Regions from separate parts of the Homo sapiens genome. Here regions 2 and 3 are each linked to region 1. Evidence: fine-mapped expression QTL. A gene starts in region 1. Each other region holds a variant in brackets. All regions are shown on one strand. Distances are between the middles of the regions.

What was found. PIP is the estimated chance that this variant, and not a neighbour inherited with it, causes the effect.
Region 2: its variant is the best candidate, but not a certain one, in a credible set for the expression of TMTC3 in thyroid (GTEx, PIP 0.62).
Region 3: its variant is the best candidate, but not a certain one, in a credible set for the expression of TMTC3 in visceral fat (GTEx, PIP 0.72).

The regions. Positions count from the first base shown.
Region 1 is chr12:88,139,420-88,145,243 of GRCh38, forward strand. It overlaps TMTC3 (transmembrane O-mannosyltransferase targeting cadherins 3), which reads left to right and starts at 2,888. Exons shown (of 14, transcript NM_181783.4): 1 at 2,888-3,068. It overlaps CEP290 (centrosomal protein 290), which reads right to left and starts at 2,669. Exons shown (of 54, transcript NM_025114.4): 1 at 2,481-2,669; 2 at 1,787-1,915; 3 at 1,537-1,614; 4 at 76-145. The coding sequence starts at 1,888. RefSeq lists enhancers at 2,509-2,948, 2,755-3,258.
Region 2 is chr12:88,111,592-88,116,750 of GRCh38, forward strand. CEP290 (centrosomal protein 290) reads right to left here. Exons shown (of 54, transcript NM_025114.4): 19 at 3,507-3,591; 20 at 2,829-2,971; 21 at 103-267. Among named protein-coding and RNA genes, the nearest start is that of CEP290, 28 kb to the right of the region's middle. The variant T/C (reference allele first, on the strand shown) is at 2,890.
Region 3 is chr12:88,093,730-88,099,553 of GRCh38, forward strand. CEP290 (centrosomal protein 290) reads right to left here. Exons shown (of 54, transcript NM_025114.4): 27 at 3,159-3,270; 28 at 41-246. Among named protein-coding and RNA genes, the nearest start is that of CEP290, 45 kb to the right of the region's middle. The variant C/T (reference allele first, on the strand shown) is at 2,613.

The DNA.
Region 1 (5,824 bases):
TTAATTTTCTACAGTTTAATGAACAAATGGAATTCATTATTTAATACCATAATAAACTTTTTCCAAGGTGCTTACCAAATTTTGCTTGTTCTTCTCCAGCTTTTTCTACTTCTTCCAAAGCCAGCTCCACTTCTTGAGCTTTCATCTAAACATTAAAAAAAGGTTATTTCAATATGCCTTTATACTGGAATGTAAGCACTGAAAATAAAAATTCTGTTTTATTTGTTATGATCCTTAGTGCCAGCAATGGCTGGCACATGGAGACGTTCAGTAAATATTTGCTGAATAAATAGTTTTTGGTTTTTGTTTTTGTTTTTTTTGCTTTTGAGATAGGGCCTCACTTTGTCACCCAGGCTGGAGTGCAGTGGCACAATCTCAGCTCACTGCAACCTCCTGCCTCCTGGGCTCAAGCAATCTTCCCATCTCAGTCTCCTGAGTAGCTGGGACTACAGGTGCATGCCATCATGCTTGGCGTGCCATCATGCTTGGTGTGCCATCATGCTCGGCAAATTTTTTCGTACAGGCAAGGACTCACTATATTATCCAGGCTAGTCTTGAACTCCCAGGCTCAAGCAATCCTCCTGCCTTGGCCTCCCAAAGTGCTGGGATTACAGACGTGAGCCACCATGCCAGGCAATTTTCTTACTTAAGACTACAATTTCTAGATTTTTAATAGCATGAAACATTTTTGATTCTCCTTTTTACCTCAAGTCCTCAAGTCTTATATCCAGTAATGCAACATCTCCCTTTGTAATGTCTTTCCACTACTTTTTTTCTGTTCCAATTGCTATTATTCTAATCCATAATTTCAGGTTTAAACTCCGCTATAATGTGATGTCTACAAAGCTCCAATTTCCTTCAGTTTGTCCTACATAATATACTCAGTTTTGCCTTCTTAAGGTGTATTTTTGTACCTATCAATTGTGTTTCGAAAACCTTTACTGCCTTCTCAATTGCTGATAGCATAAAATACACCTTTAAGGCCCTCAACAACCTATCTCAAAGTACTTACCCAAGATTTGTTTTCTCTACAGTCTGCTACAAACTTGCTGCACCTTGTTTCCTCAAATATAAAGAATAAACATATTTCCTGTTCTCAGTATTTATTTATGGTAACCAACAGCTCTAGAATTCCCTTACTATCTTACCACTGCATTGCCTTCCACTTATCTAACACTACTCCTCAGTATTGATCCTTTGTGAAGTCTTCTGACATCTCTTAAATCATTTCCCCTCTTAACAAATCCCTATAGCAGTCATTGTCTGCATTTGTCATTTGGACCTCAAGATATATTTCCTTATGTTACTTTTCAACATACTCATTCTATTTCCCCTACACACCCTTTTAGAAACTTTAAGTAGAAACTAGCAATGTTTTATACACTAAAATACTTAATTCACATTTAAATATATTGCATTTTTTAGTGGTGATGTAGATATTACCAGGTATTTTCACAAAGATTACCTTATATAAGAACAGATTTTTATAGTTCCACTAATAGCCAAACCTATAGTTAAAACCTACTACATACAAACCTTCATTAGTGACTGAGTAATTCTGAAAAGGTGTATCACATTTTCTTGCTTTTCACTTTTTAGCTCATTTACTTCCACCTAAGTAAACAGAAAAGCAACTGTTTTATATTTTATAACCTTCAAGCAAAATATAAGAACACTTCCAGATTGTGACAATTATAGTTGTCCCTGAAAAAAATAAATTCATATTTTATTAATAAATTAATCATAAGTTAATGTATATATCTATTATTATTGACCAATTAAGCACCTTGGATAAGGAAATCAATAAATTATCTGCCAGTTCTTCTTGACGGGGCAGGTCATCTGGGTCAACTTTCATTATTTCTTTCCAGTTTATATTAGGTGGCATCTTGAATTCTTTCACTGTGCTCCACCTCTGTAACAAAACAGGTGTATATTAGCATTTTCAAGGTACACAGTATTATTGGTTTTCTAGCACCTTACATTTTTTGCAGATTATTTCATTATAACTTTCTGATGTTAGCAAAACAGACAATTGGGCCACAAAATAGACAAGTGGGCAAAATAGCCTTGATCAAAAATAGCAGTCGGCACAAACTGTCAGAGTGTCCCGGCTAAATAAAATGTGACGGCTTCCTTGCTAACACTAATCTAAGTTAATACTTAAGATTTCTGGATCCCTTCCTCCACACCCCTACCCACAATGCGCGCGAACACCCTAATCCTGGCAAGCGCGAGGGTCTGTGGAAGGCCGACAATCATCCCTGATTTGGAGAAACAGAATTGGGGCTGAAAAAAAACGCAGAAATTAACATTTGGAATGAGTGAAGTTGTGCGGCGGAAACTGGAACCGAAGCAAGGCAGTATTAGGGACCCGAGGCTGGAAGGGCGGGGTAGCTATGCTGTGGCACACGGGCCCTCAGGCTAAAGAACCTGAGCGTGGAGTGACTCGCTAATCCTGCTTACAAGGATCCACCCACCTAGACCAAGCCTGGCAACCAGCGGAGGCCTCTCACTACCGCAACCACCAAGCTGGACCCGGCCGCGGGCCCTGACAGATCCCTATCGCGGTTCCACGCGGACTCTGGGTCCAGCCAAATGGTCCCGAGCAAGCCAAAGCGGCAGCGGCTGCTAGGCGACACCATCCCCAACTCCGCCAAGGCCAGAATAAGATCCCGGATGCCAGGAGAGCCTACAGTTCACGACCGTGGGTGATGCTTTACGTTTAGATTCTCCGCCGGAGTCCCAGAGCTCGGTGTTCAGGATGATGAGAAGGCGTGGAACGAGGACTTCAAATCCCAGAGTGCAGTTCTGCCTGAGGCTTCTGCATGCTGGGAACTGAAGTCCCTGAGAAGAGGAGGTAAGGCGCTCCCGGCATGCAACGCGTAAGACTGCGACGGTACCGGGGCGGCGGGGAAGGACCGAGAGGCGGGAGGAGCAGCGGCTCAGGCGCCTGCAAACTGGTGGCCTGAACGAGGTAGACCATGACTGTGGTTTCAGTGGCGTCACTCGCTGGGCTGCTCTTCCTGAGGTTTTCCTAAGCCATCCCCTGGCGGAACCGCCCCCAGGTGAGGTCGAGCTGTCGGTCAGCATATTGGGAGGAATTGAGGGGAGCAGTCCTGGGTTAGAGAAGCTTCTGCTATTGGGGCCGTAGGGCCTGGTCCCATTCTGAAAAAGTGGGAACACCCTGCCTTCTCTTCAGGCGTTTGCAAGCGGCGTCCAGGGTAGTGCCTTCTGTAAGAAGGAAAAAACAAAAAGTTTTAGCCTTGTTTAGTATCAGAATCTGTCTTGATAGTTAGAGTGAGAGCCGCGCAGCCGTGATCCTCGTTTGGGGGCGAGCGAAGAATTGACAAGAGGTCTCGGCATCCCGACCCCGCCCGCCTTACCTGTAGCACCATTCCTTTCGCGGATCGTGGGGCTTGATGGTTGTGGAGCTAGTATAAAGTCAAGGCTCTAGAGAGGAGAGGTTAGTACTTGTCCGGACCACTGCCGGGGGTGGAGAGAGAAGGGATCCAAGGACTCACCTGTACTATTGTTGCCACTTGCTTGGTTACCTAGGGTGCCCTTCCATGAAAGCGCCTTCTCTGGTGTTTACCACTCTTACTCGTGCAAGTTTTGCTCATCCTGCTCGTCTGCTCACAATCATGCTGGAGTATGATACATCTCTACCTAACTTTCCTAAGAAGCTGTAGACTTAAATCTAAATGACATTTCCAACTATCTGGACCAGTGCTTTGTCTTTTTTTTTTTTTAAACGCTGCTTTAAAAAAAAAATTACTGTACTTGACAGTAAATTTTCCTTTCGAAAATAAGTAATGAGTTTCTTTTTAAACCCCCAATTTGGGTAAAATAAGTAGCTCAGTACAAAATAAAAAGATACTGATTTTGTGAGATGAATTTTAAAGACATTAGTTAGATTTATAGGAATGACAATTTTACTACTTTTCTGAAAGATTATATGCCAAATACTATTCATTATCTTGTTTATTCTTCCTTACAATCCAGTGAAATAGGTGCTTACATTGTCCTCATTTTCCATCTGAGTTAAGAAACTGAGGCTTGGAGAAGCTAAGTAACTTAAATAGTGTGATTGAACACAGATCTCTCTGGCTGGAGGACATATTCTTAACTTCTATACACCTCCTCAGACATTCTGGGAAACCAATATTTGTGAAGTGCTTGTTCCTCAATCTTGCTATTTTTATTAAATGTTATATTTTAATTTTGTAAGTGTTTACTCAATAATTTGAATTAAACATTCTTCATGTTCAGTGTTCTTAATTCATAATTTAACATGGGATGGTGTTTCTGGAAAGGTGTTCTGATCTGGACCCCAGGAGAGGGCTCCTGGATCTCGCCAAGAAAGAATTGGAGGTGCATACACCCCCATTGGAGGTGGTAGACTAAGGATTGTTATAGTTATTTCTTGATTATATGCTAAACAAGGGGTGGGTTATTCATGAGTTTTCTGGGAAGAGGGTAGGCCATTCCTAGATCTGAGTGTTCCTCCCCTTTTTAGACTATATAGAGTAACTTCTTCACATTGCCATGGCATCTGTAAACTGTCATAGCACTGGTGGGAGTGTCTTTTAGGATGCTAATGCATTATAATTAGTGTATAATGAGCAGTGAGAACGAGCAGACGTCCCACCTTTCTCGCCATCTTGGATTTGGTGGGATTTGGCTGGCTTCTTTACTGCATGCTGTTTTATCAGCAAAGTCTTTATGATCAGTATCTTGTGCCCACCTCCTATCTCATCCTGTGACTTAGAATGACTGACAGACATCCTGAGAATGCAGCCCAGTAGGTCTCACCCTTATTTTACCCAGCCCCTATTCAAGATGGAGTTGTTGTGATTCAAATACCTCTGACAATGGTAGGAATGAAATTTAATAGTTACTGAGCACATGTTATGTCATACACTATGCTGACTACTGCGTGTTTGTTTTCATAATAGAAGTCTGTTTTCTCTAACACCTTTTCTTCTGTTTTTTTTTTCATTCGTTATAACTTATTTTTATGTATTCACTTACAAGTTTCGTTTGTCTGTATTACTCTTTTCTACCCTTCTGCCACCACCCTCTTGCTCACATTCATAAACTCAAGGTGCCTGGTCTCTAATGGTAAATTTTATTCTAATTTTTCAGAAGTGAGAACAAGTTCATAGAAGTTAAGTAATAATTGATGAAGCTAAGATTGTAACCTAGATCTCAGTGACAATTGTAACTAAAAGCAAAATCTTACCTAAATTTTATTCTTTAACTCATTCTAACAGTATTTTTTATCCTGTTTCCTGTGCTAGGCACTGGGGATACAGCAGTGAACAAGTCAGCTCTGGCTTGAACAAGTCAACTAAGTTTTTATGCATTGTCGTCTGTACCTAAGTGTGAGTCAGGAAATTTAACTCAGGTTCTAGTTCAATAACTCACTGTATATTTTTGAGGAAAATTGGCAAAACTATTATTTTTCGTCAGATTTTCTGCACCTGTCAGTTTTCATCAAGAAATGGGACTTATGTGACAATGTTGTAAGTGGCCTTGTTATAAGAACACTTGTCTGGACCTGCCTTCTTTCTGCCCTAGGCTTTTGTGAACAGTTTTATCTGACCAAAATCACTTCACAAGAAGGCCTCACCTTTTATTATTGCTTACCTTTGTTCTCTGTAGCAATGAATTTATATTCCTTGGATGTTACTTCTAGTTCCTTTTTGCTGACTTACCAAGAAAAGTCATAGTAGCTTACTTCTCCGATCTCTAAAACAAAGCATGGCCATTTTGTATCCATTGTGTGTCCTAAACATTTTGTTTTGCCTTATCTTCATGG
Region 2 (5,159 bases), 28 kb before region 1:
GGGGCATTTTCTCATAAAGCATTCTTTTTAAAAAATTAAAAATTTCCTATTAAATCTACATTCTTATGTTTAGCATTTTCTTTTATTTAATAAAATTCTCACCTTTAAATTAGCTTTTGCCAACTGCTGTGAATAATTTATAGCCTCTTTCCGAGATTCCCTGAGCTCCTGTCTTAATTCTTCATTTCTTCCGGTAAGCTGATCAACTTGGGCTTTCAAATGCAGACTCGCATCAAAGATTCCTTCTGCATTCTTTGATTCTATAGCCTAGCAAATTTATATTATATATTAGAAATGTGGAGAAAAACAGTAAAATCATAGTAAAAAACAGTCTGTCTTTAAATAAAATGGACATTTAAGCATTTTCCTATTTTCATTGCCAAGCATGATAATAAAGTATGCCAATTCAAATTCTTATTTATGAATCTATAAAACTTTCATTTACATTACCAAGCATAGTAATTACTTCATTAAAACAATTAAAAAACACCTAGCTAATCTTAATAGACTGGTAGACTAGAAAAACAACCAGACGGGAATAAGATGACCAGGGTTCAAATTTTAATCAGTCACTTAACAGCTGGGCAAGTGACTTAAATTCTCTGTATCTTAGTTTTCTTGTCTCTAAAAGGGGAAAACAATGTGAGCTCTGCTCCCTACATGGGGTTTTTGTACAGTCAAAATGAGGTATTTTTCTCTGAAATTATATAGCACCTGCATTCAAAGCATGCGCAAAGGAATGGAATACAATATTGAACAATTGATCAATACAACATTCAATTAAGTGAATTTTTCAGTGCTTCCTCTCCACATAGTTGAAGCATAAATAAAAATAAAGGCAAGGTATCATAACATGATATTATCTAAGAATAATGAGTAAGCAAAAATAATATGTCAAATATTAAAATATTATCAGAGTGGCATCACTGGCCCGAAATCTCCAACAGTGGCATATCTAAGTATATACACACAATGCACACATCTAATAAATATATTTGGACTTTAGATGAACTGTATGGAAAAAACTGTTAAAGGCAAAGTAAGTCTTAAAAAGTGAAGGTAGAAGCCAAATAAGGTAAAATGAATAGAACCAAATGCAATCTCCTACTCAGGAAGGTGATCTGGGGTTTAACTCTAGGTAGTAGATTTGTAAAAGCCTTCCCCTGAAGGAGATTAGAGCAGGTCATGCAGAGTAATAACTTATACTAACTCAAAGAGGATATAAGGAAGATAAAAGTAGGTAGAGGAAGGTACTCTGACTGACAACAAGGTGGTCTAGTTAGTTGTCTCATTGAGGAATAGTGCCGTGTCTACATGGACTTTGGTAAAATGAGAATGAGTTAAGATAGCTGTTGGGGGCACTGAAAAATACCTTGTAGTAACAAAAAGTGAACTGAAGTGCATAATCCAGCATTGTCTGGTCTAAATTGTCATGGATTCTGAAGATTTCTTAGAGAAGTATTGCTAGGTGATTTGTGAATTTCAGATAGGGCCTATGAATCTGAAAAAACAATGACAATCCCGGATAAAAGTAAATGAAGTCTATGCAAACAGTGGCTTCAGGAAGGTCCAGAGATTGTCAACATAAATAGAAGTTAGGATTTCTTGGGCTATTCACTGTGTTTTCATTTGGTCACTAAGTAGAGCTGCCCTTGGAAAATTAAGTTTGATCTGGGACACAGTATCAGTAGTGGGCATCATCACGGACAAAAGATGTTCACATAAAAAAAGCATAAAGAATCATTTTAGACATTCAAAGTGGCAGAGGCAAAACAAAATCACCAATCAGAGAAGGAAAGTCAGTATGAGAAAGATATAATGGGAATCAAATTATTTTCTTGCCTCAGGAAGTTTTTAACATACCAGTATCACTCTCATTCTCTGTTAACAATTATAGTGTTATTTTAAAAAGTATCCAATTACTGATTAATCATGATTTTTTTAAAAAAACAATTCAATAAATAATAAGAATTTTTTTCCCATTTGAAATCAAGCACAAATTTGGGAAATAATATGACAATGTACGCTAAATATGTTCAGATAACATAAATGACATATACTTAAATATTAACAATCTAAAATGTGTATATTATTCAAGTTTATATACAGATACTGAATCCTGTGAAATTCTCAAGTCCCTATATGGTAAATATATATAGAATATTAGTGATGGCTAAATCTTTCTTGTAGCAATGAGTAAATCTTTAAACATTTAGAATAAAGCCATTTCATAATACTTCTGATGGCATAAGTTCCTAAGAGATCTACACTCCCATAAATAAAAAATGAATGAAAAAAAACTACCTAGATGTTCTAGAAAATGAACAAAAGCAAGCAGATTTTGGGAAAAAACCCCTCAAATACGGAAGACAGGACCAGCAAAGATTGACTTTGCCATTTTTAAAGATTTAGTCATAGGGCAGGGTGCAATTGCAGAGATCTATCATCTTTCTCATCTAGAAAACCACAGGATACAGCCCAAAGCCATGGGATAAGTGAAAGGAAAATCCCAATAAGAAAAGAGTCAGCAAAAACGAGCTCCAAAGTCGGTGTAAAAAACTCCTCAAGGTCTCAAGCTGACCCTTGAACCAAAAGAACACAGATAAAGAGGAAAATGTCAGTGAACTTGAAGACAGATTAATAACAATTATCCAATTGGTAGAAGAAAAGTATTGAAAGCAGCTCAAGAAAAACTACACTTTACATACAGGGAAACAATGATTCAAATGACTAAAAATATCTCATCAGAAACTATGGAGATCTGTACACAGCAGAAAATCTCTCTAAAGTGATAGGGGAAAAACATTAACATGAAAAAAATAACTTACATTAACTAGTCTTTCAAGGCTAGGGATAATTAGAGATGTTTCTCCTCCTTTAACATCAGGA[T/C]CTTTCTGCATTTCCTTAATTGCTTGCAATATTTCTTTCATACCTTCTTCAAGTTGCTTATTTTCTTCAACTAATTCTTTTACTGTAATTACACAGTTTTCTCATTGGATGATCAGATCTTTTTCACAATTTACACTATGCTATACAGATGACAAATATTTCACATATACCAAAGACATCATTGGAAAAATCCAAATGTAAATAAACATACAAAAAAATTCAACTATAAATCCAACGTGAATAGTTGAGTTAAATGACAGACCTATTTATATCACGTGCATATACACACGTATATAAGGCATACTTCTGCCTTAACTTAAACTATGCTTTATATTAAAGTATTTTAAATTTGGTGTTCTAACTTCATTTTGATTGAAGAACACACAAGAAAAAGGAGTTATATATTCTCACAAAAAATTCATATTAGTAACATTCTCTCACAATGAAAACAGCAAGGCAAATCAACTGGATAGTGACAGACTGAAGTATATACAGTACAGAGGTAATTAGGAGTAAAGCAGATTAGAAAACAGAGAATGTGTTAACGCCCTTTTAGGCCCATGATTTTAAGTATAGGAAAAATAAGAACAGAAAAGTAAAAGATAATTGTAACTTACATTTATTCTGAAATTTGGCTATCACTGTCCTACTCCTTTCTAAATCTCTTTCTTTTTCAATTAGTTCTCTTGAAAGAAATTCATTCTGAAAAAAGCAGAGAGAATAAAATTGATTTTTTTCAACAAAATATCACAAGTCTATAATTTTCAAGTTAAGAAAAGTTTGATCAATTAAGTATAACAAAACAAAACAAAAAAAACGAGCTATGAAGACATAGCAGCAATCATAAAAATAAACTAAAATCTAAACAGTAAAGCAGATGGTGATCTTAATCCCACTTTCTCCCTCTCCCAACATCCATGGTAAGAGGCAAAAAGATATAACGGTTTTTGTCTTTAGTACCACAATCATCTCTTTTAATGTTCTGCCTTTACACTACCTGTTCTGCCTGGCTTCTGTGATGTTCAAGCTCTATATCTGCATTTCTACACTCTGCTTCTTTGATCAAGAATTCCTGTGCTATGATTTCATTCTAAAGAAAAATTTAATAAATTAGACAAGTCAATGAGTTCATATCAATGTACTGCATTTTAGATTTTAAAAAGTACAATGTGTATAACTGATGTTAAAGTGCAAACAAAAATATTCTAACTATAATTGTTACAGAACTTTGTTAGAGACGTCATAAAAGAACAACCACAGAAATATAATTTGGAGAAAAACTCACCTGAGATCTAAGAAATACTAGCTCTCTCCGTAACTGTTCTATAAGATTTTCAAGAGAATTTATCTGAGATAATTTTGATTGTGCAGTAATAGACACAGGGTCTGGAAGATTAACCTTAAGCTTATTTTTCAATATCTCTGTCTGTAAGGGTACTTCACTTTTTATTATATCTTCTTTCAAATTGATATCAGCATACTTTACTTGGGAATGAACCTGTTCTTCTTCTAATGTTGCTACTTGTGATTTATCCATGTCAGCTCTATTTTCATGAATTTGTTGACAAAATATTGCAGATTTTTGCCTAAGTGATAACTTCTGCATTATGTCTGAAGCTGTTGATAAGCCATGAAAAGATGAATTGCTTTTTTGTACAAAACTAGTCTTCTCTAGTGCTTGATGGCTTCTTGACACCTTCTTCATACAGTCATCAGAAAAAAGGCATATGTCATTTATTTCTTCATGGCTTTCCCTACTAAAGGTGCTGACTAACGATTCTAGATTTCTTGAAGACTGCAGACATGGTGCTTTAAAAATCTCTCTTATTGTAATAGTTTCTGGAGTTGAATTCTCTTTAACTTGCATGGATGAAGAAAGTCTAGTTAAAGGGACAAAAGGATGCATTCCACTTTCTACACTATGGTGAATTTCAGATAACATTCTTGATAATGATCCTATGGTCATATTCTCTTCTGTCTCATTCTGATCTGACTGTGGGGTATTGAATGATGATCTCCTATGCAGCAGCTCTGCTTTATCTGAACTCCTAATCTGTATTCAGAGTAAATAATGTCTCATTAATCAATCTTTGAATCAACAGGTTAAATAAGCAAATATTTCCCTCTACTTATTTAACAACAATAATAAGATTAGATGTTCAAGAATGAGATAAAGGGGGAAGAAATGAAAACACAATAAAAATATTTTCCTGGCCGGGCGCGGTGGCTCACGCCTGTAATCCCAGCACTTTGGGAGGCCGAGGCGGGCG
Region 3 (5,824 bases), 46 kb before region 1:
TTTATTCTATAATTGTATGATAAAACTTATAATATCAAACCTCAGCAAATTTGGTTTCCAATTCAAAATTACGTTCCTCCATTTGCTTTAACGAAGTCCGTAAGTGTTCATACATTTTTTGACAATGTTCAGCCCGCTGCCTTTCATTTAATTCCTTCATTTCCAGCATAGTTATTTTTTTTGAAATGGAAACAATGTCACTGTTGGTTATTGATTTCTTTGCCTTATCCATGCTAGATTCATTACCTACATGCAATAATATTTAAGTCAATCTCATGCTGTTTATATTAAAATTACCTCAGATATTTTAGATGCTGTATATTAGAAAGCATTATAGTTCCATGGAAAGCACATTAGCTTTCTGAATTCCATCAGACCTGGACTCTAATCTTAGCTCTGTTACTTCCTGCCTGTGTGATGCCTGTACCATTTAATCTCTGTGGAACTTAATGTTCTTCATCAATCAAATGATTAAAAAAAAAAACCTATTCCTCACAGAATTGTGGAACTAACAACATAAAGGACTTAGTGTAGAAGTGTCACATATAAGAAATTTTAAAAATGGCAAGTAAACATTTTACTGAAAGGAGATAAACTGTATGAGAAGCAATGCAGTAAAGCAATGTGACTTTGTGAATATAAGTGCAATGACTTGATTTTTAAAGTCTCACAAAGCCAAGCTGAAAAGTAAAATCTGAAGCCATATGATGGATAGATTCTACCAAATATAATCTTGTCTAATCATGAGTATTATTTGGTCTTTGTACAGACCTAATATCAAATATTTTACATTCTTTTATTAGTAGTTATGCCTTAACCTTATATATGCAGTTACGCAGCTTGTCTTTGGACACAAAAGTCTGTGGCTAAATGGAAAGAGAACTAAAAGCCTCAATTTACCATAAAAAGGCATCGCATAGGAGTGTCATTAGTCATTTTTTGAGGGGGGGGGAAGAAAACATACTTTTGCTTTGTAAACATGGTCTAGAAAAAAAACAAAATTTGGTAGAGTGTTTTGCTTTTCAGCAACTTAAAACTGATGTGTTTAGGGTAGCCAATTACTTAAAGGAACTAAGCAGCAACTCACTTTGTAAACAGCCTTTTACAATACCAATAATGCCCCCTCCTGTTTTTCCAGCTTCATAAGTTCAAGTTTTATAACTGAGTTTTCTCAAAGTAATATACATTTCCTGAAAAAAAAATTGGTCTCTATCTCAGTTTTAAAAAGTACTTCATTATGTTCTGTATTTATCTTTAAAATGTATTATTTTAGAATAGCTGTGGCAAGCAGTAATCAAGTAACTAACAATAATGGATCACTAACAGGTGCTAAAAGCATTAGTAAATCAGTTCATTATGGAATAAAGACTCATTCAAGTAACCTTAGGCACCATGTAGAAAAATACTGCAATAAATACCAATATATAAAGGAGTCCTTCTCCATTCTGTATTGTGCTAAACTCTGATTAGAAGAGAAAAGCACATCACAAAGGCTGAAGCAGACTAGCCATCTTGTATGTTTTTGGGTTTGGAGTTTTCTTAAAGAGAGGGTAGAGCACAACAGCCCAACACTAACAAATTCCTAGATGAAAAAAAGCTAATGATGTGACATTTTTAAACAAAGATATAAGGGCAACAGGGAATAGGGAAACACTCTTAAAACTTCGGTGATATAAATCCATATATGAAAGAGATCAAGATATGTAAAAATTAAAGAATTTCTGTAGGGAATTCAGCATTTATTAAAAATAAAGATGATAAAATAAAAAGAACCTACTAAAATTGTACGTAATACTCTCATGTCTTCATTTAAATGGTACCTTCTTCCATGCAAATACTACACAAAAGTCAATTCATATTTAATCTCTTATTGAGCTAAAAATTACATTTCTAAAAGTAGCTTATGTAAGATTTCCCAGTGTTAGGCTTCTCTAAACCAAGTATCTCATTACCAATTTAAGAGAACAGCTCTATTTAGTAATAAAAACCTTGAATAGCTCTAACGTCTAGGAAACAAATACATGAAAATACATTATCGAAAGCAGCAAATTTATTTGAAAATTATGAAGCACAATATATGAGATAAAATTATGAAAATCTTATAAACTATATAACTGTTTGAAAAATTAATATGGAAAACTCTAATGAGAGCAACAAAGATTTCAATACCTTCTGAGACAGTAATATCTCTGTTAGATATACATGAAAATGTTCACTGTGGCACTATAAGCAATAGCAAAAATATAAAAAGCTAGTGATTTAATCACTCAAACACATTAGGCTATTGTATAAGTATTTATAAGTATGATGAATAAAACAAATTTTTTTTTTTTTTTGAGACGGAGTCTCACTCTTATCGCCTAGGCTGGAGTGCTGTGGTATGATCTTGGCTCACTGCAACCTCTGACTCCTAGGTTCAAGCAATTCTCCTGCCTCAGCCTCCTGAGTAGATGGAATTACAGGCAACTGCCACCACGCCTGGCTAATTTTTGTACTTTTAGTAGAGATGGGGTTTTGCCATGTTGGCCAGGCTGGTCTCGAACTCCTGACCCCAGGGGATCTGCTCTCCTCAGCCTCCCAAGTGCTGGAATTACAGGTGTGAGCCACTGCGC[C/T]GGCCATAAAAATATTTTTGATATTACTATCTAAATACAGTATAAAACCATGTTTATAATAATTTAAAATATATAAAATATGTAAGCATATAGGAGCAAAAATATACAGTAATATAGTAGTAAAACTATGAGAAATACAACTTCTTTTCACATTTTCTTTGCTGTTTCCTGGTATCTTTTAATTTAAAAATATCAAGTGATATATAACTAATATAACTTGCACTCAGTGAAAGAACTCATAATACCATTAATAAAATATCATCAGTTTTAATTGTTAAACGGTTCAAAGTAGCTAATACTTAGTCATAAATTTTTAACATATATGATTTCATTAGAAACAAATCTAACTTAAGGACTGAAAACTAAACTTTGGTGGGGTTAAGTACAGGATTATTCATCTGCCTAAGTTAAATTATTAGGCAGAAAGTTCTTTCTTTTTTTAGTCAAAATACTTCCTTTTAATCTAGCATAAAAAAGGAACTTTAAATAAGAAATATTCATTATTAGATGTTAATCATTTTATATTATCAGAGTCATAAAACTTACCTAATTTAGTTTCCTGTTCCCAGGCTTGTTCAATAGTGTGAAGTTTTTCCTTGGTAATCTCCAGTTCTTTATTTATAGACTCCACTTGTTCTTTTAAGGAGATGTTTTCACACTGAATAAAGGAAAAATATCACTAAGAAACTACATTGTAATTCAGACCAATACCACAAAATGACATTGTCTTAACTTTATATAACATCTCCTTAAAACTCACAATCCAGTTTTTTACAAAATTAGAATTTCCTCCATATATAATACATGTATGCATACAAACACATACATATATATATAATACTTGTATACATATACATACTGATATGGTTTGGCTGTGTCCCTACCCAAATCTCATCTTGAATCATAGTTCCCATAATCCTCATATGTCATGGGAGGGATTTGGTGGGAGGTAATTGAATCGTGGGGGTGGTTTCCCCCACGCTATTCTCATAATAGTAAGTTCTCACGATGTCTGATGGTTTTATAAGGGGCTTTCCCCTTTGCTCGGCTCACATTCTTCTAATTCCGGCCACCATGTGAAGAAAAATGTGTTTGCTTCCCCTTCTGCCATAACTGTTAAGTTTTCTGAGGCCTCCCCAGCTCTGTGGAACTGTGAGTCAATTAAACCTCTTTCCTTTATAAATTACCCAGTCTCAGGTATTTCTTCATAGCAGCATGAGAACGGACTAATACACATACATACATATATATATACACACACACACACATACACACACACACACACACACACACACACATATATACAATGTAAAATATTATTTTAAAATAATCATCCAAATCCTGTGTTATCCAATATACGGCCTCAATTTCTGAGTATTAGCTTCTGCCACTAAAGCTGTACATTCATTTTGGCCAAAACTCTTAGAATACTCAAGAGTTTTGCAGCCTTCACAAACTAGTGCTTACTTCCTTCATGCACACAGTTGCTGAGCATCCTAGTGTGCCATCAGTGACAGATGATGATGTTTACAGTGAAAAGAAATATAAAATTCTGGCCTTCAGAGTTCTGCCCATTCAGTGCCTATGTGTGTGTGGGTGGGTGGCAGGATTTCGCCAGAGTGTGGAAGGCAGCAGATAATAAGCAAGTAAACAAACAAAAAGTCTACTAAAAATGTCAATGTTGGCCGATTACGGTGGCTCACACCTGTAATCCCAGCACTTTGGGAGGCTGAGGTGGGTGGATCACTTGAGGTCAGGAGTTCGAGACAAGCCTGGCCAACACAGTACTAAACATAGTGCTAAAAATACAAAAATTAGCCAGTCATGATGGCACTTGCCTGTAATCCCAGCTACTCAGGAGACTGAGGCAGAAGAATCCCTTTAACCTGGGAGGTGGAGGTTGCAGTGAGCTGAGATCACACCACTGCGCTCTAGCCTGGGCAACAGAGCAAAACTCCATCTCAAAAAAAAAAAAAAGTCAGTATCGACCAGGTGCAGTGGCTCACACCTGTAACCCCAGCACTTTGGGAGGCTGAGGTGGGAGAATCACTTGAGTCCAGGAGTTTGAGACCAGCCTGGGCAACAAAGTGAGACCTCATCTCTACAAAAAAACACAAAAAATTAGCTGAGCATGGTGATGCATACCTGTAATCCCAGCTATTTTGGAGGCTGAGGTGGGAGAATTACTTGATCCCAGGAGGGCAAGGCTGCAATGAGCTATGATTGTGCAACTGCACTCGAGCCTGGGCAACAGTGAGACCCTGACTCAAAAAAAAAAAAGTTGACATTTAGAAAGAAAATAAAAACAGAGTACTGAGCCAGTGAATAATAGAAAGGAACATTTAGATAGAGCGGTTGAAGGATGTCTTAACCACCAAATAATTGATATTTAAGCTGAACTGTGAGGTACGAAGTATTTATTAGTAAACCCAGATGCTCCAAAGGAAGAAAGCATTTGGAATACTATAAGATCTGAGAGGAAAAAATGATTGAAATGATTGGAGCAGGAAATGATTTGGAGGACTGGAGCACCCAAGCAGAGTAAGCAAAAATAAGAGTCAATAGTAGTAAAACATGAAGTTGGAGAGACCATCAGGGGCCACACCAGGCAGGGCATGGCATGCCAAGACAAGGAACTGGAATTTAACTTAACGTATAAAAGAAAACAATTTAAAGATTTTAAGGAGGAAGTTTTAAACAATCATTCTGGCTGCACTGTGGAGAATAAAGGGGTCAATAGAGAAATCAGGGAAACTAGCCAGAAAGACATTGTGGAACTCCAGATGAGTGATGATGCTGGTTTGGACAAGGGTTAGAGCTGCGAGGATGAAGAAGACACACATAAATTACATTTGGAAAACAAAAATGGTAGGGAAAAAGAATGACTACAGAATAACTCTAAAGTATCTGCCTTGACTAGCTGGTTAGGTAACTGAACATATATTGAAATAAGAATGACTAGGAGAGAAACAGAAATCAGGAGTTCATTGTGGACACGTTAAATTTGAGATCCCCTTGAAACACAGGAATTGTAAAGTAGGTAATTCTGTACAACAGAATAGAGCTGTGAGGAAAAAGGCTGGCGATATAACATAAATATATATCTTAAGTTCCTTTATTTTTTATTTGAAAAAACAGAATGCCTATTTACTACATGCCAGGTACTCTAAGCAATGGATTTCAGTGATAAATAAATTATATCCTAGAACTTA